Linked DNA regions of Homo sapiens: all the other regions are linked to region 2. Evidence: fine-mapped expression QTL. A gene starts in region 2. Each other region holds a variant in brackets. All regions are shown on one strand. Distances are from middle to middle. Region 1 overlaps DTNB (dystrobrevin beta). Region 2 holds the start of DNMT3A (DNA methyltransferase 3 alpha). Region 3 has its middle 20 kb from the start of DNMT3A. Region 4 overlaps DNMT3A (DNA methyltransferase 3 alpha).

Region 1 (5,372 bases), 42 kb after region 2:
TGATGTGGACAGTGGAGTGCAGGTGCAAAGACAGCACCTTGGGACCTGGAGGCCCGGGCAAGGGAAACCCAGTTTGATGTGGACAGGGGAGTGCAGGTGCAGAGACAGCACCCTGGGGCCTGGAGGGCTGGGCAAGGGAAACCCAGTCTGATTCCCATGTGAGGCATGGCCCACACTCAGACTCGAACCAGGATAAGGGCTAGAGTTCGTGGCCAGGGCAAGGCCTCAGTGGCTGGGGCAGTCCTAGGTTTGCTTTGGTGGAGTGAAAAGGACTGAGGAGAGGCCATGGGAAAAAGCTACTGGGGAAGGGAGGGGCAGGTGAAGGGAGGCCAGAGATGCAGCTGTTATGTCTTCAGCCAGGAACATTCCACATGAATGCTAGGATTTGGTTGGCATGTGCATGTGCATGTGCGTGTGCGTGTGTGTGCGCGTGTTTGCAGCATGTGTTTACACCAGTGTAAATTTATCTGTGTATCTCTTCACCTTTTGCCCTCCTGCCTTCTTTCTTGTCTGTGTGGGTAAGTCAATTGTTTCTACATTTCTATGAAGCATTCCTGGATGTCTGAAACACTACTGCTCTCTAATGTGACCTTTTATTTTTATTTTTTAGATAGGGCTTTGCTCTGTTATCCAGGCTGGAATGCAGTGGCGTGACTATAGCTCACTGCAGCCTTAAACTCCTGGGCTCAAGCAGTCCTCCTGCCTCTGCCTCCAAAGCAGCTGGGACTACAGGTGTGCACTACCACATCCGGCTAATTTATTTTTTGTAGAGATGGGGTCTTGCTATGTTGCCTATGCTGGTCTCAAACTCCTGGCATCAAGTGATCCCCCTGCCTCAGCCTCCTAAAGTGCTGGGATTACAGGTGTAAGCCACCATGCCCAGCCTAGTCTGACCTTTTGGTGTCCGTGCCACATATGTCATTCTCATCAACTCGTTGGCGCTGCTGTCCACTTCCTCCCAGGCCTAGCTCAGACTCACTAGACGATTTCAGAATCTGCAGAATCTTCTTCCTCTTCTCCCAGTTTCTTCCTCAGCAATTTCAGGGTCCTTGCTGACAAATTCCTTGCCCCGTGAGACTCCAAAGACGACCCTGTCTTAGCCACTCCAGCCCCTATGGGCCAAGAATGCTCCAGACCCACTGTCCTGTAGGTTTCCCTTTCTTGTCACAGCTTCCTTACCTGTATCTCCCACTTGGCTTCTACCCTTCCTTAAGTAAGACCACTCCACTTCCCTTAGTCTACCAGTTCAGCTCAGACTAAACCATGGGCATTGGAGTTGAACTCAGGCTGTGCCATTTATCAGCTGGCAGGTTCTTTCACTCCCCCGAGCCTTGTTCAGAATTCCTCCCTGGGAGGGCTGCTGCTGGCTCCTCCTCATGCTTCCTGCTCTCCCTACCTTCACCTCCTTGGGGTGACCAGCCATTGCATTTCTCTCCCCGATAAGGTACTCTCTATCTCATCACCCCATTTATTTCCTTTGATTTGTTCATTTATTGACCTCCTACTAAGCACCAGGCACTGGAACACAACATGAACAAAACAGACTAAAATCTCTGCCTTGAGGAGCTGATGTTTAGGAGGAATCCAGCAACTAACACATTAATGCACAACAGAAAGAACAGCTCACCCTCAAATGTCCAAAGAAAATTTTGTTTTCTGTTCAGTATAACATAGAAGGATGAAGATTAAGAGCACGAAGTTTGGAGTCAGAAAGACCCAGTTCTCTGCCTTTTTTTTTTTTTTTTTTTTTTTTTTTGAGACAGAGTCTCTCTTTGTTGCCCAGGCTGGAGTGCAGTTGCGTGATCTTGGCTCACTGCAACCTCTGCCTCCTGAGTTCAAGGGATTCTCCTGCTTCAGCCTCCCGAGTAGCTGCGATTACAGGCATGCACCACCACACCTGGCTTATTTTTGTATTTTTAGTAGAGACAGGGTTTCACCATGTTGGCCAGGCTGCTCTCGAATTCCTGGCCTCAAGTGATCCGCCCGCCTCGGCCTTCCAAAGTGCTGGGATTACAGGTGTGAGCCACCACGTCTGGCCTAAATCTCTGCCGTTTAACAGCTACATGAACAACATCTCTCTGAGCCTATTTCCTCATGGGTAAAATGGGGATATTCGAATCTGTCTCACAGTGTTAAGGATTAGATGAGATCATCATACGTGAAAATCATTCCCTGCAGCTCTTCCCAGATGTCATGTGTTAAGCAGGTTCGATATATAATGAAACTAGGAAGGCACTACTGTCCTTTGCTGACACCTTCCCTTCTTGGTTTTATTCTTCCATGAAGCCACAAAACCATTTGGCTATTCTAGTCCACAACAATCTCTTCCTTTTCAGAAACCCTTATTATACTTATATGCTGAAAGTTTTATGATTAGCTTTTTCTGCCACTTCATTTGATCTATTTATTTTGCATTTTTGGT[CT/C]TTTTTTTTTTTTTTTTTGGAGATGGAGTTTCACTCTTGTTGCCCAGGACGGAGTGCAGTGGTGTGATCTCGGCTCACTGCAATCTCTGCCTCCCAGGTTCAAGTGATTCTCCTGCCTCATTCTCCCCAAGTAGCTGGGACTACAGGCGCCTGCCACCACACCTGGCTAATTTTTTGTATTTTTAGTAGAGATGAGGTTTCACTATGTTGGCCAGCCTGCTGGTCTTGAACTCCTGACCTTGTGATCCACCCGCCTCAGCCTCCCAAAGTGCTGGGATTACAGGCGTGAGCCACCGCACCTGGCCTGGTCTTGCTTTATTAACTAGATCATAAACTTCTCCAGTCAAAGGGTCATCTTTTGTGTTCTACTTGTATCTACTTCCTGTATCCCAACTACCTATCCCAGGATCAGGAAATGAGGAAGCTCTTGGTGATCGACTGACCTTGTCACCTGGAAGGTAAAACCTGACTGTCAGATGGGAAAAGTAGGTACAGGGACCTCGGGTCCGAAAGCTCTGGGAAAGGTGGTGGCAGGGAGGAATGCAGAAACAAAGTGGGGGGCGGCTGATCCATGAGCTCGGGCTCCCCATTTAAACGAGCAGTCCTGCTGAGCTGCCTTTACCTCTGTCTTTCCCATTCTGCATCTTCTCTTCTTCTTCCTCTGCACCTTCCTCTGCTGTGAAAACAAGTCCAAGGAGGCCAGTGACCCTTCGGCACAGGACAAGTACAGAAGGAGGGTGAACAAAGCAACTGCTGAGGCTTGGGAGGAAACTCTAGCTAACAGCTCCTGGCTGCAGGCCTCTGAGGGTGCTTCAGCTCACCAGTCTGCACTTGTGCGGCCCACGCCCCAGCACTGCTGAATAGGAGCCCGTAAGACCACAGCCCAAAGGGAGCAGTGCGGTCACATCGCTCACTTTCCTGACCAGGGCTGGGGGCGTGCAGTGTGGGGTTGCGTGCCTCTGTTCTATGCCTGTCTGCCCTCAGGTGGTGATGACCAGGGAGACATCTAATGTCTTGCATTCAGGTTTAAGAAAGTGACCATACAATATATGGTGGGGGAATACCTAGATTAACACGGGGTTCTGTTAAAAAAAAAAAATTCCGTATGTTTTAGCTGATGATAAACTTAAAATGACCGCACAGTGCAAAGTGGCTATGTGGGAAGTGCTAATGCCGTCTAAGGTGCTTTTCCAGGGGACACTCAAGAGGGTCACAGATGCCTTGTGCTCTGCAGGGACAAGATCCCCTGTGATGGAGAGCAGGGTGCTGGGCCCTGGGCATGTACTTTGAATAGGAGCCTTGGAAAATGGCCACATCCTGGTATGGTCAAGCAGGCTGGTAAGAGAAAACCATGTCACGTTTGGAAAGGTTGAAGGAATTGGGTGTAGCAGTCTACAGAGGAGAAAACTAGGAAGGGTTGTCATTTGCCATCCAACCCGTGAAAGGCGAGCCTGCAGAGGAGGGACTGAGCTTATCCTGGGTAGCTTGAGAGGACAGGGATAAATCAGTTACAGAAAGTGAGATTTTGGCTCCCCACTGAGGAAGAAGTTTCCAGTGATTAGAGTTGATCATGAATGAGCTCGCTGGAAATATTCAGAGGACTGTTTTATTGGGTGGCGAGTTGGATTAAATGACTTCTAACATCCTTTACAATTTTTTTCTTTTCTTTTCTTTTTTTTTTTTTGAGATGGAGTTTTGCTCATTGCCCAGGCTGGACTACAGCGGCGCGATCTTGGCTCACTGCAATCTCTGCATCCCAGGTTCAAGCGATTCTCCTGCCTCAGCCTCCCGAGTAGCTGGGATTACAGACATGCACCACCATGCCAGGCTAATTTTGTATTTTTAGTAGAGACGGGGTTTCATCATGTTGGTCAGGCTGGTCTTAAACTCCTGACCTTAGGTGATCCACCTGCCTCAGCCTCCCAAAGTGCTGGGATTACAGGTGTGAGCCACTGTGCCTGTGGCCTCGATCCTTTCCAATTCTAGGATTCGATTATCTGTGAAAAAACTTTATAAAGATGAGGACTACAAGCTATGTATATACAGTATGTATACACTGTATAGAATATATGTAAAGATAATCTGAGTATGTCCTCTCATTGGAACAAAAACCTGTCAAGTCACTGTCAAGGAGACAGTAAAAACATGTTGGTGATGGGTGAAGCTATTCCATTCACTGAGAAATTGGCACCCTCACATGTAAAGGGAGTTTATGTCTGCATGTTAGAGGGATACCGTGCCATGTGTGGCTTTGGTCCACGTCTACCTACAGGCTTCAGTGACTGAGAGGACAGCATCAGGGAAAGGGGCCTCTGGGACTCTGGGTTTGCTATCTTGTCCTGGAGGGGAGTAAGATCTCTGGCTTGATGCTCTGAAGACCCAGGTTCTAGGACCAGCTTTCCCCCTTCAAGCTGCACGACCTTAGGCAGACCACTTTTCTGATAAGCACAGGCTACATCTCTAAAGTAAGGGACTGGACAATGTGCTCTCTAAGGCACCTTCCAAATTACACTACATAATTTTGTTGAAACCATCCTTTCTTACTATGAGACACTGCTGAGGATTCCTATAAGCTTTACATTTTTGTGAAGCTATTTGGTCTCTATGTGCTTTCCACTTAATGGTATTTAATGACCTCTCACCCTAGCACGATGAACGCAGAAGCCACTTATTTTGCATAAACTCTAATAAGTGGCCATGAAGTACAAGTGTAGTTAATTCCCATGGCCCGAAATTCCCTGAGAAATTTCCTCTAAAAGTGGGATTTCTGACATCTGTGGGGAGCTGCATTAGGGAAAGCGCCTTCTAATCACCTGTGAGGTCATCCTGAAGGCTGTCGCCTCTTCTGTTTATGTGTACAGAGCGGGGCCGTGCTTCTGATGGGGGTTGAGAAACAGTGCTAGAATGGAGAGGGTGGCACCATCAAACAAGAGAGGCAGCGTCTGACCT
Region 2 (5,372 bases):
AGCTGGAATGGACCTTCCGGCTCTAGTCCAACCCCCACCCCACAGAGGAATCCTGTCCGCAGACACCCTGACAGATGGCTGCTGGCGTCCTTTCCTAGGCTTCTCCAGGAAGGACTCAGAGGGCAGCCCTGTGGACCAGTCCACTCCTTGAGTCTAGAAGGAATTCACCTTTCTTAGGGTCAGTCTCCTATGGAAGGCACTGGTGCCTGGGTGGGGTAACGAGGGAAGTTTGGTCGGCCTGAATCCGCAGCTGCTTATCTGGGGAGGAGCTGCACAGAGGAGGGGGACCCACCAGGGAGGCAGGCAGGTGCCAGAGCTGCTGCACAGGCCAGCCTGGTCCCTCGCCTGGAGCCAGCACATGTGCACACACAGACTCCCACCTTGACAGAGCCACCTGTCACAGCCCAAGCAGGGCCTCGGTAGAACCTGGAGGCAGAGGGGGACCATTTTGCCCCAGAAACCCAGCAGGAACTCCCTACAACCCAACTCTCCAAAGGCAGGCAGCTCAGAAAACTACCTGGAGATGGCCCCTGCTAGCCAACCAAAGAGGGTCCCCGGGATGCCTGGCCCCCCAAATCCCACAGGCCAGTCCTAACACCCAGGCAATAGCAAGGCGAATAGCTCCCCTGGCTGCAGCTGTCACATCTGCCCGCGAGGGAGGAGGCGACACTGGAGCAGCACCTGATCCCAGGATCCCTTCGTAGCCGCCCGCCCAGGAGGCGGGTTCAGCCGCTGGCAGCCTAGGGTGAAACATGAAGACTGAGCAGGCCCTCAGGGATGCTGATGGCAGTCTCTGGGCACGGCAGTGAGGGGCAAGTTGGGTCACAGGGCGGACAGCGCTTCTCCCCAAGGCTTCTGTCCCCGCTGGTTTGGAGGGGGGGTAGCTGCGCGGCCCTGGGGCTCGGCCCTGCCCACCCTCCCGCCTGCCGCAGGCCAGAGCTGCCCTGCTGGGTGCCAGACGCCATGTTGGGTCAAGGTGCAGCCGCAGGGGGCTCCCCTCAGGAGCCGGGGGAGGCAGCCCCTGGGAACCAGAGGGCACTGCTCCCCGCCCAGGGCGCCAACACCTCCTCAACTGGCCGTGCAGCGGAGAGAGGGTGCCAGGACGGAGGGGATGAGGAGAGGGGGAGAAATGGCAGAGGGGCGCTGGGGTGGGAGAGGGTGCCCCCAAGAAGGGAGGCTTCAGGAAAGCGAAAAGCAGTTTGGCAGCCCCAGGGCCGCGGGCCCCAGCGATGAGGGGCTGGGGGAGGCCAGGGGCGGGCCCTGGACCCGCGCCAGCCCGGTCCGCGCCGAAGGGGAGGGAAGGCAGGGCGGCCTGGGGGAGGGGAACTGGGGTGAGGGCGGGACACGGACAGCCGCCGCCTGCGGCTCCGAAGCTCGAGGTCTCCCGGGGTGCGGGGACGTGGGGCCGAAGACCCCGCTCCGCAGCCGCGGCGAGGCCTCGTCCTTCACTGTGCAGATGCGAAGCTTTCAAGGACACGTCTGCACCGGCCCGGCGGGGTGCGTGTGCGTGAGTGTGTCCGCGTGCGTGGGAGTGTGCGCGGGGGTGCTGGAGGGGCGACCCCGGGCGTACCCCCCCTGCGCCGCTCCCGGTCCCGGCCCCGCTACTTCCACCCCCGCGTTTTCCGGCCCCCGCGGCCCGGGCCCGGGCCCGGGATCCTCGCCCGCCCCCGCCCCGCCCCCACATTGCGGCGCCGCCACCGCGGCCGCCCGGGCACCCACGGCCCGCGGTGGGGACAGGGAGGAGCCGGGCACGACCACCCCTCTCCGTGCCGCCGGCACTCCGGGGGAAGGTGTGCCCCCAAGGCGGGCGCTCTCCCCGGCCCCGCCGCCCCTCCCGGCCCCGCCGGCGCCCCGCACCCCCAGCCACAGGTGGCCGGAGGAGGATCGCGGCGCGGCGCTCCCCGGCCCGGCCCCGCCATCACCCCTCGGCCCGCCCCCGGGGGCCTCCCGGGTCCCCCGCCCCGCGGGGCCGAGGAGGGCCGGGCGCCGGGGGGAGGGGCGGGGGGCCGGGTCGTGCCAGGCTGCCATTTTCTGCCGCCGCCGCGGAGCCTGCGCGGGGCCCGGCCCCCGCCCCCTCCCCCGCTCCCCCGGGCCGCCGCGGGGGCCGATCCTTCTGGGTCGGGGTCCGCGCCCTCCGGCGCCCTGGCCGCGGGCTCCAGGCGGGGCCGCGGGGCTGGGGCAGAGCCCGGAAGGCGGGGGCGGCCCGGCCGGGGCCCCTGCGGCAGCGGCGAGCCGGGCACCGCGGCGCAGGCCGGCGGTGGAGGGGCCCCCCGCGGCATTGTATAGACTTGAACTTGAGCCCGGAGCCGGGCGGGGGCGGGGAGGGGGGTCCGCGCCGGGAGCGGGCGGGACGGGAGGGGGCGCCTGCCGAGCCCGCGGGGACATAAACAAACCCTCAAATCCCCCGCGCCGCCCCGGCCAGCCCGGCCCGCCGTCCCCGCCTGCAGTCCCGGCCCCACGGGCGCCCGGCGCCGAGTTGCAGGGGTCCGGGAGCGTGCCCCGAGCCGGGCACTGCCAGCCGCGGCGCCCCCCGCCCGGCTCCCCGGCTCCCCGCCGCCTCCGGGCCGGCCTTCCGGGCCGCCAGCAGCGGCGCTCATTACCGTATGGCCGGTGGGGTCGGGCCGGCCCGGCTGCGCGCCCTGGTGCCGCGGCGCCGCGTCCCGGCTCGTCCTCTGCTCTCGCCGCCGCCGCCGCCCGCGCGCCCTCCCTCCCTCCCGGCCCGCCTGCCTGCCTCGCTCGCTCGCTCCCTCCCTCCGCTCGCTGTCGCGCTCCCTCTCTCCGCCTCCTCCGCCGGGTCCCCCCCTCCCACCCCTTCTCTCCGCCTTCCTCCTTCCCTCCCTCCGGCCGCCCGCGGGCCCAGGCCTCCGCCCGCCGCTCGCCCCCCGCGGCCGCGCTGGCCCCGGCCCCGGCGCTGCGGAGCCGGCCCGGGAGGCAGCGCCGACTGGGGGGCCCCGGGGCGCCGCGGCGGGAGCGGCCTGGGCGCGCGGCCGGTCCTAGCGCCCTCGGCGCGACTTCCCGGCCTCTGCGGCCCCGCCGGGGTCCCCGCACGCCGCTTGGCGGAGGTCTGGACCCCGCACCGCCCAGACCGGGGGCCGGGCCCCGGGCGCCCCGCCTCGGCCGCGCTCCCGGCCACTCAGAGCCCCTCGAGTCGTAGCCGAGCTCCGGGCCTCGCCGCAGCCCTCCCCACGCTGGGCGCCCCGCTACCTGGCGCTGCTTCTGCGCTGGGTCCCCGCATCCAGCACTGGCCGCAGGGACAGCGGCCCCTCCTCTCCCCGGGCCGGTGTCAAGTGCCTCCCCCCGCAGCCCGCGGAGCCCCCGGCGGCCTTCGCCCTGCAGTTCTCCCGACCTCCGCCAGAGCCCACTGCGCTCTGCCTGCCTCAGCACTGGGGCTGGGGACAGCAGCGCTGGCCCAACCGCGCCGCAACCCCCAGCCAGGTGCCGCCGCGGAGTAGAGGCCACTCTGCTCTACAGGGCCAAGGTCGGAGCGCCAGGCTCCTCCTGGCCGTCCCGCAGGCTCCAAAGCCTCTCTGAGATGAGCTGCCTTGAAGGGAGTGAGTTCCCCGTACCTTGAGGTGTCCAAGTAGAGTTGGGTGTCCTCAGTTGGGCACTGGAAGACTGAAAGATTTCATGAGGTGGGAGGTTGAATGAAATGACATTGAAGGTCTCTTCCAGCTGGAAGATTCTGTGTGTGCCTACACACCGCCCTCACCCCTTCACCGTGGGGGCTGTTCTCCTTCCCCATGGAGCGCTCAGGGCTCTAGGTTCCTGACTTGGGGCACCTCTGTCTAATTCCACCAGCACAGCCACTCACTATGTGCTCATCTCACTCCTCCAGCAGCCGCTGTAGGACTTGGGGCTGGGCACCCCCCCACCCCCGCCTCCAGCCTCCTTGCGCGCCCCAGCACCCCACCAGCCACCCGCAGCTCTGCACCCCGAATTCTACTCAGCACTTCAGCTATATCACAGTGCCCTGAGCTCCCTGACTGGCACAGGACATGGCGTGCTCCCTTCCCAGGGACCCGCCATCCTACTTGTGGGCAGGGATTGCTGGAGTTGGTGGTGGGACTCACTTCACAGTGAAGCGGATCCTACTTTTCCCTTCTCCCCATGCAGCCCAGCACCCGCCCCCCCAACGCCACCCTTTTAGCGTCACAGAACCGAGTTGCCAAGTTCTCTGGGACCGGGAGCTGACCTTTCATACAGACGGGAAGGTTTTCCTTCGGGAGGTTCTCCAATGCTTCCAGGTCCCTCCGTCTCCCCAACCCCCACCCTGAGCCTCGATATCTGAGACCAGCTTCTAGGCCATAGTTCTGGCCGTTTTCAGTGTCACCCTCACTCAAGTGGCCACCCCGCCCTACTGATGATAGGCCCTGCTGTCCATGGTCCCCACCGGCCCAGAGACTCCCAGTGCTCTGTGAGGACAGGGGCCGCGTCTGTCATCCCTGTAGCCCAGCACTTGGTGCTAGGAGATTCTCAGTAAACCTTGGTGGAATTAACATGTGACCCTCCTGGGCTGTTCGCTTTCTACATCAGGAGGGGCATCCGTGAACACTCTAAATGGCGCACCCAGCTTGGCAAAGGAGAAGACCGTTTATAGAAGGATGACTGAGATACCTCTGCCTTCATCAAGGGCTTACATATAACACGGCCCCAAACAGCAGCGACTGTTTACTGAGTGTCTACTATGTGCCAGGCACCAGACATGGTATTTTCTCTAGTCTTCACTAGCCCTGTGATATGGCTTGTACTCTCCTCACGCTACAGATGAAGAAACTGAGGCTCAGTCTTAGTCAAAGCCATACAGTTGGGAAGTGGCAGAGTCAGGATTCAAAGCCAGGTTCATCCGGCTCTGAAATCACCCCACATCACATCTTTTTTTTTTTTCTTTTATTGAGACACAGTCTCGCTCTGTTGCCCAGACTGGAGTGCAGTGGAGTGATCATGGCTCACTGTAGCCTCGACATTCTGGGCTCAACCAATCCTCCTGCCTCAGCCTTCTGAGTATCTGGGACTATAGATGCACACCACCATGCCTGGCTAATTTATTATTATTATTTGTAGAGATAGGGGCCTCTCTATGTTGATCAGGCTGGTCTTGAACTCCTGGGCTCAGGTGATGCTCCTATCTCAGGCTCCCAAGGTGTTGGGATGACAGGCATGAGCCATCGTGCCCAGCCCACACCACACTTTTGAAACATAGTTGCTCTTAAGAAGCTGAAATTCAGTGGGTGCAGTGGCTCACGCCTGTAACCCCAGCACTTTGGGAGGCCGAGGCGGGAGGATCACTTGAGGTCAGGAGTTCAAGACCAGCCTGGCTAACATGGTGAAACCCCGTCTCTACTTAAAATACAAAATTAGCTGGGTGTCATGGC
Region 3 (5,372 bases), 20 kb after region 2:
AGGGGGCTCTGAGCAAGCCAGCGGCAGAGCCAGGGCCAGACCAGGACTCTCACCTCACCCTCTGTCCACACAGAATTTCCCAGGGGGCCCGGGGCTCTCTTGTGCTAGAGACTGGCTGAGGCCGAGGGCTTGTCACCCAGCCCACCTGCTGCCAGGCTGGGTACTGGCTCACAGCTCTGTCCCTGAGCAGATCTAACCCAGCCCTCCCCTTGCTGTCCCCTCCCTCTCACTGCGTCCCAAGCACCCGGCCTCCAGGGTCATTTGGAAAACCTGCCTGTCCCCAGACATCTTGAAATCTCTTGAGTGGAGACCTTTCCTTGCCACACTTAATGAATTTCAGGAGCTGAATGTGGGCCCCTGGGAGGTTGGGGGCTGTGAACAGTGGGGAGAGGAGTAGACAGGGACAAAGAAGTTCAGGACAGGAAGGTGCAAGAACCTGGGCTGCGGGGGCTGATTTTCCTGAGCAGAACTGGGCTAGCATGTTCGTGGGGACAAGGGAACAATGGGGGAGATGGAGGCCGGGTGTTTTGCTAAGCCAGGGCAGGAAAGCCTGACCTTCTGCACTTCTCAGGGGCCCAGCAGTGCCCTCCACACAGACCCTGGAGATATGGGCTTGGGGCTCTTGCCCAGAGAGTGGCAGGGAGGGCCCATCTTAGGTCCTAAGGTGTCTGCTGGTTCTGCCAGGTCTAACTCAGGTGCCCAAGAAGCAAGTCCTCTGAGGGCCCCAAGACCACCCATAGTGGCCCTAGAAAAGGTGGCTCCCCCATCCCCCTTGAGCCTTAAACTTGGCAGATTTCCTGGATTCCATGACTGACACAGACCTTCCTTTCCCAGCAGCCAGCCCTGAGCAGGGCCCATGGACTCGCCCTGTCCCTTCCCCTCCTTGACCAGGCAAACCATCTTGAAGTTGCTAGAGCAAGATTCTTCCTTATCCACTGGGAGAGGCCAGGGTCTGTCCTTCTCTCAGGCCACCCCCACCCCCAGCCCCCCCTTCTCTTCTCAGGTGATTTTGGTGGCATACCTCTTCCTTTCTGTCCTAAGCCCATCAACCCCCCTCCCACTTTTTTTTTTTTTTTTTTTTTTTTTGGCCACAGAAAAGAAAGAAAAAGGAAAACAGCCTAAAGGCATATTCTCCTTTGTGTAAAATTAATATATGCTATTCAAGGGCATGTAAATGTAATTTTAAAGTCAGCTTTCTTGGGCCTTTGTTAGGAGGCCGCTGTCGTGGTCAGAAATCTACATAGCATATGGCATATAGTAGGTGGTCAATAAAAAAAAACTCATCCTGCCCTCCTCTCTCCCCGCCACCTTTCCTTTCTCAAGGGTCCCGAGGGCACCTGGGCTTCCCAAAGCAGAGAGGCCTGTTGGGGGCAGATGCCCACCTGCCCTCCCGCCACCCGTGCCTGTCTGGGCTTCTCCTCCCAGAACAAACCTCTCCTGCAGGGGAGGGCAGGTGGCACCTGAGGGACTGTCCTGAGGGCTACTGAGGGACTCAAGGAAAAAACCCACCTTGAGTCAAGCAAGTCTTCCATGTCTCAGAGGGGATCCTTCCCAGGCCTCCTTTTTTTTTTTTTTTTTGAGATGGAGTCTCAGAGTCTTGCTGTGTCACCCAGGCTGGAGTACAGTGGCGTGATCTCAGCTTACTGTAACCTCCGCCTCCCGGGTTCAAGCGATTCTCCTGCCTCAGCCTCCCGAGTAGCTGGGATTACAGACTGCACCATCATACCCAGCTAATTTTTTTTTTTTTTTGAGACAGAGTCCCACTCTGTCGCCTAGGCTGGAGTGCAGTGGCATGATCTTGGCTTACTGCAACCTCCGCCTCCCGGGTTCAAGCGATTCTCTTGCCTCAGCCTGCCAAGTAGCTGGGACTACGGGCACGTGCCACCACACCCGGGTGATTTTTGTATTTTTAGTAGAGACGGGGGTCTCACCATGTTGGCCAGGCTGGCCTCAAACTCCTTATCTCAGGTGATCCGCCTGCCTTGGCCTCCAACTCTGTGCTGGAGCTACAGATATGAGCCACCGCGTCCGGCCAGGCCGCCTTTTAAATTAGGATCAAGGAGCATGGCCTGAAAAAATGATTGTTTTAGTGCCCCGACCCCACGAGGGAGTGCGGGACTGAGACCCCCATCAGGCCACTGAGCAGGGGAGCCAGGACAGCTTGGCGGTCACACCCCGGAGGTCTGGGTGCAGCGCGGGAAGGCTGGGTCCCTTCTAGGATCTCTGGGCCACTAGTCCAGCTGTGGGGACAGTGTCCGAAGCCCCTGCCCCACTGACTGGGGATCCGGAAAAAGGGTGCCACCTCCCCACCCCAGGCATCTACTTTGCTTAATGGAGGCTGAGCCCAAAGAGATGCCATTGAGCACCTAACACCACTATTGCCACTTTTCTGGCCACTTTTCCACATCAAACTCATTCTTTTGGTCAAGTGGGAATAGAAATCAGGGAAAGTTGTGGGGAAAGTCATTTCAAGTAAACAGATTCAAAAGCGCTCGACAGCCCCTCGGCGGCTCCGCTCCGAATAACCCCACCGCGGTCAGCAGGTTTCGGAGCGGAGTCCGGGTCTCCATCGGCTGCAAAAACCAGCGAAGTGGGCGGCTCCGCCAGGCCGAGGACCCAGTGCAGTCGCCGCATTTCGCTCTTCACCCTCCAGGTGGCGCTAGCGGGGGCGGAGCGCATATTTGTATTTGGGGAGGAGCTTCAGAAATGCTGACTGTTGATTGGCTGGGCTCAGTCTCGCTTTCTTTTCTCCTTCC[C/T]GGCAGGGCTAGGGAGGGGACCCAGTCCCGGTGCCTGAGCTGCGCAAGAGGAAACGTGTGTGTGGGAATGGGACAGAGGGGACGGGGTTGGCTCACTTGACACAGAAAGAACATTTGGGGCATGGCCCCTGGGTGTGTTCACTCCTCAAGGACAATCCTGATTTCCTGGTTTTTGTTTTTTTAATAAAGGCAATTTGTTAAGTGTATAATGAACTGTGTTTTCCATTTGTCATTCCTTTATAAGACACCTCATAAATTTACACACCAGGAAAATCCTTGGTGGGACCTGTTGATAATAAAGACATCGTTATTTACAAAAGAACGAAGGTGAGGACCTTCTAGACCTCCCTTTTTCATTTTCTTGGTCTCTGAATGTTGTGTTTGTGTTACCAATATAACGATCTGTGGCTGTATTTTATTTGCACATCTAACAACTGATTGTTAAGCTTCCGCTATCTGGCAGGCATTGGGTGGGGTTTCTCTGAGTCAAGAGTGAGGAAAAAAAGAGGGGGAGCTCGTGGACAGGTAGGACAGGCGGCAGCCAGGATCCAGGCTGTGCACGGGGAACATTGAAGAACGCTGCCACGGCCCCGAAGAAGAAGTGGAGCCACGGGGAGAGGAACGGGGAATTTAGAGGAAGTGGGGCCCGAGGGCAGCGGAGCAGAGCCGCTAGCTCAAAAAGCGCAGTGCTGAAGTCACACTGATGTCACTGCAGAAGCCCAGAGGAGCTAAGGAGAGGTGAGATGTTGGGGGATTCCCTAGGGCAGCTGGAGTGGGCCCCTGGCCTTTTGTCCGGTTGGTGGGGAGGAAAGCATTGGAAAGTATAACTTCCAGAATATTTCCTTCTTGCTCAGGACAGAAAGCCATCTCTGGGGCCAGGCGCGGTGGCTCACGACTGTAATTTTAGCACTTTGGGAGGCTGAGGCGGGTGGATCACGAGGTCAGGAGTTCAAGACCAGCCTGGCCAACATGCTGAAACCCCGTCTCTACTCAAAATATAAAAATTAGCCGGGCATGGTGGCAGGCGCCTGTAATCCCAGCTACTCGGGAGGCTGAGGCAGGAGAATGGCTTGAATCTGGGAGGCAGAGGTTGTGGTGAGCCGATCATACTACTGTACTCCAGCCTGGGAGACAGAGTGAGACTCCGCCGCAAAAAAAAAAAAAAAAAAAAAAAAAAAAAAAAAAAAAAAAAGAAGAAATTTTTGCTAAGTGAATAAGGGAAGCAGATGCTTCTTGATCGGTAGAGAAAGCTCCCTCTAGGAGCCTGCACAGAGCCCAGTATCTCTGGCAAAGAATAAATTGTTCGGAGAGGGCTCTCTTTAGTGTAGGGGAAAGTAGCCCCTTTGCCCCGGGAGAAAACTGTGACAAGACCTTGGCGTTTCAAGGGCTTGAAGAAACTGCTCACCCACTGAGGGGGCAAGCAAGTCACAAGTGTGTGTATACCTGGTGGTGAGAGTGAGGTCTGCGAGGTGGTCCTCCCCATCCTGTCCTGCTCCTTACCTGCCATTCCAAGACCAGCCTCCACCCCAGAAGCAGATTTTCCCATGACTTGAGGGCTACAGCCTGGGCAGAGATTTGGCTCAGGGCCCTGGACTCCACCCCTCGACCTCCTTAAGTGGCCCTTTACATGTCTGGGCAGGGGAGACAAATCAGCGCCCCAAGCCTGAGCACCCGTGCCAGGCCTGGGGAGATCCTCAGCCACCTGGCACCGGGCGTGGGGCTTGGGCCCTGGCAGTACCAGGTTCCCTTGTCCCCATCACTGTAGCCTCTCGCCTATGAGTCCAGGTAGGGTCTGGCCAGTGCGGCTCAGTGTGGCTTGACCCACAGTGCCCAGTGGATGGTGCAGACACTAGTGTCAGAGGAAGAAAGGAAAGCAACCATTATTACTCATTTGCTATGTGCTCAGCCCTGCTCCAGGTCTCTTACACATTTTAATATAATCCTTAGAACAACTAAATAGGTTGGAATTATCTTCATTTTATAGATGCAGAGAATAAGGCAGTGACCTGAGGTCACTCTAGAAAGGAGCAGCGTCAGGATTCAAATGAAGGTGTGCCTGCCCTCCAGAACCCATGCTTTTCCATTGAACCCTATAGCTGTCCAGGAAGGCATGGTCCCCAGGGATCCCAGGAACCCTCAGGTACCTCCCTGAGAAGCAGGGCCCCAGACAGGCCTCCAAGAAACAGGGAGGATGAGACAACTCCAGAGAAGAAGGCAGAACCCTCGCTGGTGAGGACCCTTGGGAGCAAAGACAGGGACAGAAGGAGGAGACTTAGCAAGGGGCCAGCAGGGTGCAGACTCGCAGAAAAAGGAAAGGGAGAAGATTCAAAAGGGCAAATTGAGGCAAGAGGTGACAGATTTAGACCAGGTCTAGGGAGATCATGGAGGAAGCCCGGGGCAGCTGGAGGCACCCCAGCAGGACTGGATGACTTAGGGACCAAGGTTGGAGCAGAGGGCAGGAGTCACACATATAAATGCTCCTGGGAGCTGGGCAGGTCACGTCAATGGGCAGGTGAGCTGAGGGTGGAGCACAGACAGAGCTGAGCAAGAGACAAGCAGGACGTGGGAGTTGGAGCGGGGTTGGGAGCCCTCAGACAATAACCAGAGGCTGGGACA
Region 4 (5,372 bases), 25 kb before region 2:
CTTAAACATAGATCCCGGTGTTGAGCCCTCTGGTGAACGGTGCCTCTGTCAGCCTGTGGGTGGGGGCTTCGATGGCTCCACCTGTGGGGGAGAGAAGAGGATCAGTGGGGCGGAGCACCCCACCCTCCCTGGGTCAGGCCCTCAGCCCAGGGCCACACCTGGCCTGTGAGGCCTGGGGTGTTGCTCCTCCTTCTGGCCTCACCAGCACCCCAGAGAGCAGAGAAACCGAGGCAGGCTCCCTTCAGGGCCACCTCCTACCCCAGCAGCCTCTGAGAGCCTTGGAGTGGCAGCAGTCTCCCCTCCGTGTCGCTGCGGCCAATGGGTGCCACTTCTGGGACCTCCAGCTGCCTCCGCCTCCTCCCTTCTCTTCATTCACAGCCTCTCTCTCCTTTGAAAGCTTCCCGCATCCTCCCTCCCACCCCAACCAGCCCCTGGGAAATCCCAGCCTCCCCCAGAGGCCCCTAGCCCAGCTACGTTTTCCTTCTAATCTGTCCTCACCCCCACCCCCACACCTCCCGCCACGTGGAGGAAGTGAGTGCAGTCACAGGATGTAGTGAAATGAATGTCACCTCACTTCAGGACCGGTGCCTGGGCCCAGAGAAAGCTGAGGTCTGAGCTCAGGCTGCAGGCCTGGTTGGCTCTGGCCTAGGAGGGAGAGGCCACGGCCACGGCCAAGGCCACAGGCCACGGCCACACTGAGGCAGGAGTGAGGCTGCTCTCTCCCCCACCCCATGAACCAGCCTCATTTGCCTGCAGAGTTGGTGGGCTTGAGGGGTCCTCTGAACCCACACGGCTGAGTTTAGGGGCTTTTCTTCCCTCTGCTCCAGGTGTAGGCCTCAAGCCAGAGAAATAACAAAGCCTGCAGCTCAGGCCACAGCTGGGGTGGGGGTGTTGCTGTCTCAGCCCCCTCACTCAGAGACACACAAGAGCTCCCCTGCTCCCCACCCCCGGAGGAGGCGGCCGCCAAGCCCCTGCCTTGAGTGTGCCAGGGCCCAGGAGGGGATTGGCAGGCAAGGGAGAGCGGGAGGCAGGCTGGATCTGGGCCCACCCACACCCTTCCCCTTCCAGTTCCTGGTTCTGCTTCCCCAGCTCCCCCTCCCTCCTGGGCTTCTCCTCCCATCCCCCTCCAGTCAGGGCTCCCTGGAAAACCAGGACCGGGAGAAAGCACAGGCTTGGCTCTCCTACAGGCCTAGCCCCTTTCTCCAGGGGTGCATTCTTGCCTGGGAGTGGGTGCCCCAGCCCTGGCTGTGCCCCAGGGGGTAGTGGGAGGAAGGAGCTGGCAGGAGGAGCTTCTTAGGGCCAGGACAGGAAGAGCTCCATCAGGTCAACCCAGAAAGGCTTGAAGCGGACCTGCCCCACAGCTGAGCCCTGAGGCAGCCCAGGTGCACTGCGTCCATTCCCCATACCCCTAGGCACAGCGCAGTGCTGGGCTTAAGGAAGGTTTGCTGCCCGGGTCCCGAGAGGGTGGACGGCAGCGGAGAGCAGCTCCATCGGCCACATGCCACTCAGGGCCTGGCTCGTGCTCTGCATCTGGGCAGCTGCTGTGCCGTGCCCAGTTTACAGGTGACGGTAAGATCAACAAGGCCAGGACCCATCAGAGGCATGAACCCAGATCTCTCTGACACTAAAGTTCTGAGGGGTTGGGTTCACGTCCCCCAACACACACCACAGAAGCAACTCTGAAGATCCCAAAAGAGAACTGGTCCAACCCAGAAGCACTCGGCTGCCAGCCCTTAGCAGCCAGTGATTCCCTGTCAAGCCTCACTCCCCATTTGTTACCACAGACATCTCCAGCCACACTAAAACAAAAACCTTCGAAAGGGTCAGAAGCTAAGAGGGGCAGAGTCTGATTGGAAAGAACGTTGAGCCCAAAGTCCGCAGGGGTGGGATCTACTCCTGACGGAGGCTTCCCCGGCCCTCAGTTTCCCCACCAATGAAATGGGAGAGCAGGACCCCTTCTATTAATAGCTCTGACCGGCCAAGGAAGCTGTTGCGGCCCCACAGGCACAGTGGACACACAAGGGGCTGACAAGGACAGGGCACCCCAAATGGAGTCGGGGGAGACCCAGGCACAAAGGAAGCGGGGCGGGAGGGTTGTCTTGATGCTGCCCTAGGCTTAGGGACACCCAGAGGGCATCTGTGCCGCCACGGGTGTGGCGAGGTTCAGAGAAGCTCTGGAGAGGAAGGAAGCTGGAGGGAAAAGCAGAACTTCACAGGGCATTGGCCCCAAGGGCAGACACCCCAGACAGGAAAGGAAAGGAAGATTCTCTTCCTCCTCCCCTTCCTCCACCCAAGACTCTGACATCTGAGCTGCAGAAACTGTCCTCACAGAAAATGCAGCTGACCTGGGTCAACCCTTTCGTGTTGCTCAATGGACCAGCCCTGTCAGTAGCAGTCCCTCAAAATCGTGTCCATCACCTAAAATCCTCCAGTATGTGTCTGGGCGGGCCATGTACTACACAACCCTAGGGGGCCCCAGTTGGTGGCCAAGGTCCCAGACCTTGACATAGCATTGCCCACCTACCCGTAGACGCTTCATTCTTCCTTCAGGCAGCCCAGCCATGGGGAGTGGGCTCTCCTGGGCCCACAGTCCCAACACAGCAGCGGGTGTCCACCACATCGGTCCTTCCACCGCACAGCCCTGGCTGCTTCCGATACCAAAGCGTTCTTCCCACCTGGGCCAAGGGCTGCACAGCCACCACCACTGCCACCAAAAAACCCTTGCCAAGAACCCTACCACCATGAAAAGCAGCTTTTATTTCCTCCTTTTAGAGTCCACAGTGACCATGAATAATGTTTGTTAACAGCCACTTAAAAAATTTCAAGGAATCCCACCATGAAAACATCTTCGTATCACAGCTGATATGATCACCATCTCCACTGCGTCAACTATAAAACTGTTGTGGAAAAAGAACTGAAAGCTTTGAATATGCATACCAAGGCTCACTACCTTCTAAACTCAATGCAATAGAAACATTTTTTGTTTGTTTGTTTAGAGCAGGTTCTTGCTCTGTCACCCAGGCTGGATGCAGTGG[T/C]AGTATCATAGCTCAATGCAGCCTCAAACTCCTGGGCTCAAGTGCAAGTGATCCTCCCACCTCATCCTCCTGAGTAGGTGGGACTACAGCCATGTACCACCACACCTGGCTTTTTTTTTTTTTTTTTGTAGAAACAGGGTCTCCCTATGTTGCCCAGGCTGGTCTTGAACACATGGCTTCAAAGGATCCTCCCACCTCAGCCTCCCAAAGTGTTGGGATTCCAAGCATGAGCCACCACACCTGGCCAAAAGATTTTTTAAGACATAAAATCACAAGATTAGGCTGAACAAGAGAAGGAATACCACCAACAAAATTGTGGAATCTGGAAAGCAGACTTGTGACAGCCAAATTTCAGACAGGCGTGTGAACGCTGATATATAACACAGTCTTCAACAGATGCTTATATGACAGCACCAGGTACTCTGGCACTAGGGCTGAAGAGGATGCTTGTGTGAGAAACGAGAGGCTGAGTGAGAGTAGTGAATTCCTAGACCCTCTTCTACAAGTTTGAAGGTTTATCTGTAGTCACTGGAGGGCATAAAATAGGGGGTCTTTGCACAGAGTCACTTGGCACAGCTGAAGACAAAGATGATATATCAAACCAAGGAGAGGAAGGTTATTTATTTATTTATTTTCTGAGATGGAGTTTCACTCCTGTTGCCCAGGCTGGAGTGCAATGCCGCGATCTCGGCTCACCGCAACCTCCGCCTCGCGGGTTCAAGCGATTCTCCTGCCTCAGCCTCCCGAGTAGCTGGGATTACAGGCATGTACCACCAAGCCTGGCTAATTTTGTACTTTTAGTAGAGATGGGGTTTCTCCATGTTGGTCAGGCTGGTCTCGAACTCCCAATCTCAGGTGATCTGCCCACGTCAGCCTCCCAAAGTGCTGGGATTACAGGCATGAGCCACCGCGCCGGCCGGGAAGGTTATTTTAAATGCTGATGTCCAGTCTCTCAGGCTATTCCCCGATTGGGCTCTAAGAATACTGGCAGCCAGACAACCATTTCCTTCTCTGGAGAATCGAATGAGTCTAAGAGGAAAGGTTTAAGGATGCCAATACCAACATCAGTACCAAAATGGGGTCAAAATGACTTATTCAGGTCAGCCTATGTAGACTTGAAAACCAACAAGTCCACTATCATTCTCAGAGCTTCCGATCAGTTGGGTTTTTTTGTTTGTTTTTGTTTTCTGAGACGGAGTCTTTCTCTGTTGCCCAGGCTGGAGTGAAGTGGCATGATCTCCACTCACTGCAACCTCCGCCTCCTGGGTTCAAGTGATTCTCATTTCTCAGCCTCCCGAGTAGCTGGGACCACAGGCGCCCGTCACCACTCCCGGCTAATTCTTGTATTTTTAGTAGAGACAGCTTTCGCCATGTTGGCCAGGCTGGTCTTGAACTCCTGACCTCAAGTGATCCACCCACCTTGGCCTCCCAAAGTGCTGGAATTACAGGTGTGAGCCACCGTGCCCAGCCAAAATTCTTAAAGAATAAACCAAATCTTAAACAATCTTCCAATTAGAATTATTTTCAGCCAAATTATCATTTAAGTGTGAGAGTAAAATAAAGACATTTTCTTTTTTCTTTTCTTTTTTTTTTTTTTTTTGAGATGGAGTCTCGCTCTGTCGCCCAGGCTAGAGTGCAGTGGTGCAATCTCGGCTCACTGCAAGCTCTGCCTCAGGGGTTCATGCCATTCTCCAGCCTCAGCCTCCCAAGTAGCCGGGACTACAGGCGCCCACCACCATGCCTGACTAATTTTTTTTCTATTTTTAGTAGAGACAGGGTTTCACCGTGTTAGCCAGGATGGTCTCAATCTCCTGACCTCGTGATCTGCCTGCCTCGGCCTCCCAAAGTGTTAGGATTACAGGTGTGAGCCACCACGCCTGGCCCTTTTCTTTTCTTTCTTTCTTTTTTTTTTTTTTTGAGACGGAGTCTTGCTCTGTCGCCCAGGCTGGAGTACAGTGGTGGGATCTCGGCTCACTGCAACCTCCACCTCCCGGGTTCATGCCATTCTCCTGCCTCAGCCTCCCAAGTAGCTGGTACTACAGGTGCCCACCACCACACCCGGCTAATTTTTTGTATTTCTAGTAGAGACGGGGTTTCACCATGTTAGCCAGGATGGTCTCGAGCTCCTGACCTGGTGATCCGCCCGCCTTAGCCTCCCAAAGTGCTGGGATTACAGGCATGAGCCACCACGCCCGGGGTCTTTTTTTTTTCTTAAATAGAGATGGGGTCTCACTATGTTGCCCAGGCTGATCTTGAACTCCTGGGCTCAAGTGATCCTCCCACCTCAGCATCCCAAAGTGCTGGGATTACAGGCGTAAGCCACCGTGCTGGGCCCTA

Evidence for each region. PIP is the estimated chance that this variant, and not a neighbour inherited with it, causes the effect. A credible set is the group of variants that fine-mapping cannot tell apart.
Region 1: its variant is the best candidate, but not a certain one, in a credible set for the expression of DNMT3A in whole blood (INTERVAL, PIP 0.54).
Region 3: its variant is the best candidate, but not a certain one, in a credible set for the expression of DNMT3A in whole blood (TOPMed, PIP 0.55).
Region 4: its variant is the best candidate, but not a certain one, in a credible set for the expression of DNMT3A in whole blood (INTERVAL, PIP 0.50).

What each region holds. Positions count from the first base shown.
Region 1 is chr2:25,380,791-25,386,162 of GRCh38, forward strand. It overlaps DTNB (dystrobrevin beta), which reads right to left. Exons shown (of 21, transcript NM_021907.5): 19 at 3,046-3,099. Among named protein-coding and RNA genes, the nearest start is that of DTNB-AS1, 38 kb to the right of the region's middle. The variant CT/C (reference allele first, on the strand shown) is at 2,423.
Region 2 is chr2:25,339,226-25,344,597 of GRCh38, forward strand. DNMT3A (DNA methyltransferase 3 alpha) reads right to left here and starts at 2,700. Exons shown (of 23, transcript NM_022552.5): 1 at 2,601-2,700. RefSeq lists silencers at 1,423-1,542, 1,823-2,062, 2,163-2,332, 2,623-2,832, 2,893-3,372 and an enhancer at 3,493-3,612.
Region 3 is chr2:25,359,459-25,364,830 of GRCh38, forward strand. No RefSeq gene overlaps it. Among named protein-coding and RNA genes, the nearest start is that of DNMT3A, 20 kb to the left of the region's middle. RefSeq lists enhancers at 2,735-2,814, 3,085-3,184, 3,235-3,284. The variant C/T (reference allele first, on the strand shown) is at 2,757.
Region 4 is chr2:25,314,081-25,319,452 of GRCh38, forward strand. It overlaps DNMT3A (DNA methyltransferase 3 alpha), which reads right to left. Exons shown (of 23, transcript NM_022552.5): 2 at 1-81. Among named protein-coding and RNA genes, the nearest start is that of MIR1301, 12 kb to the right of the region's middle. RefSeq lists an enhancer at 1-471. The variant T/C (reference allele first, on the strand shown) is at 3,036.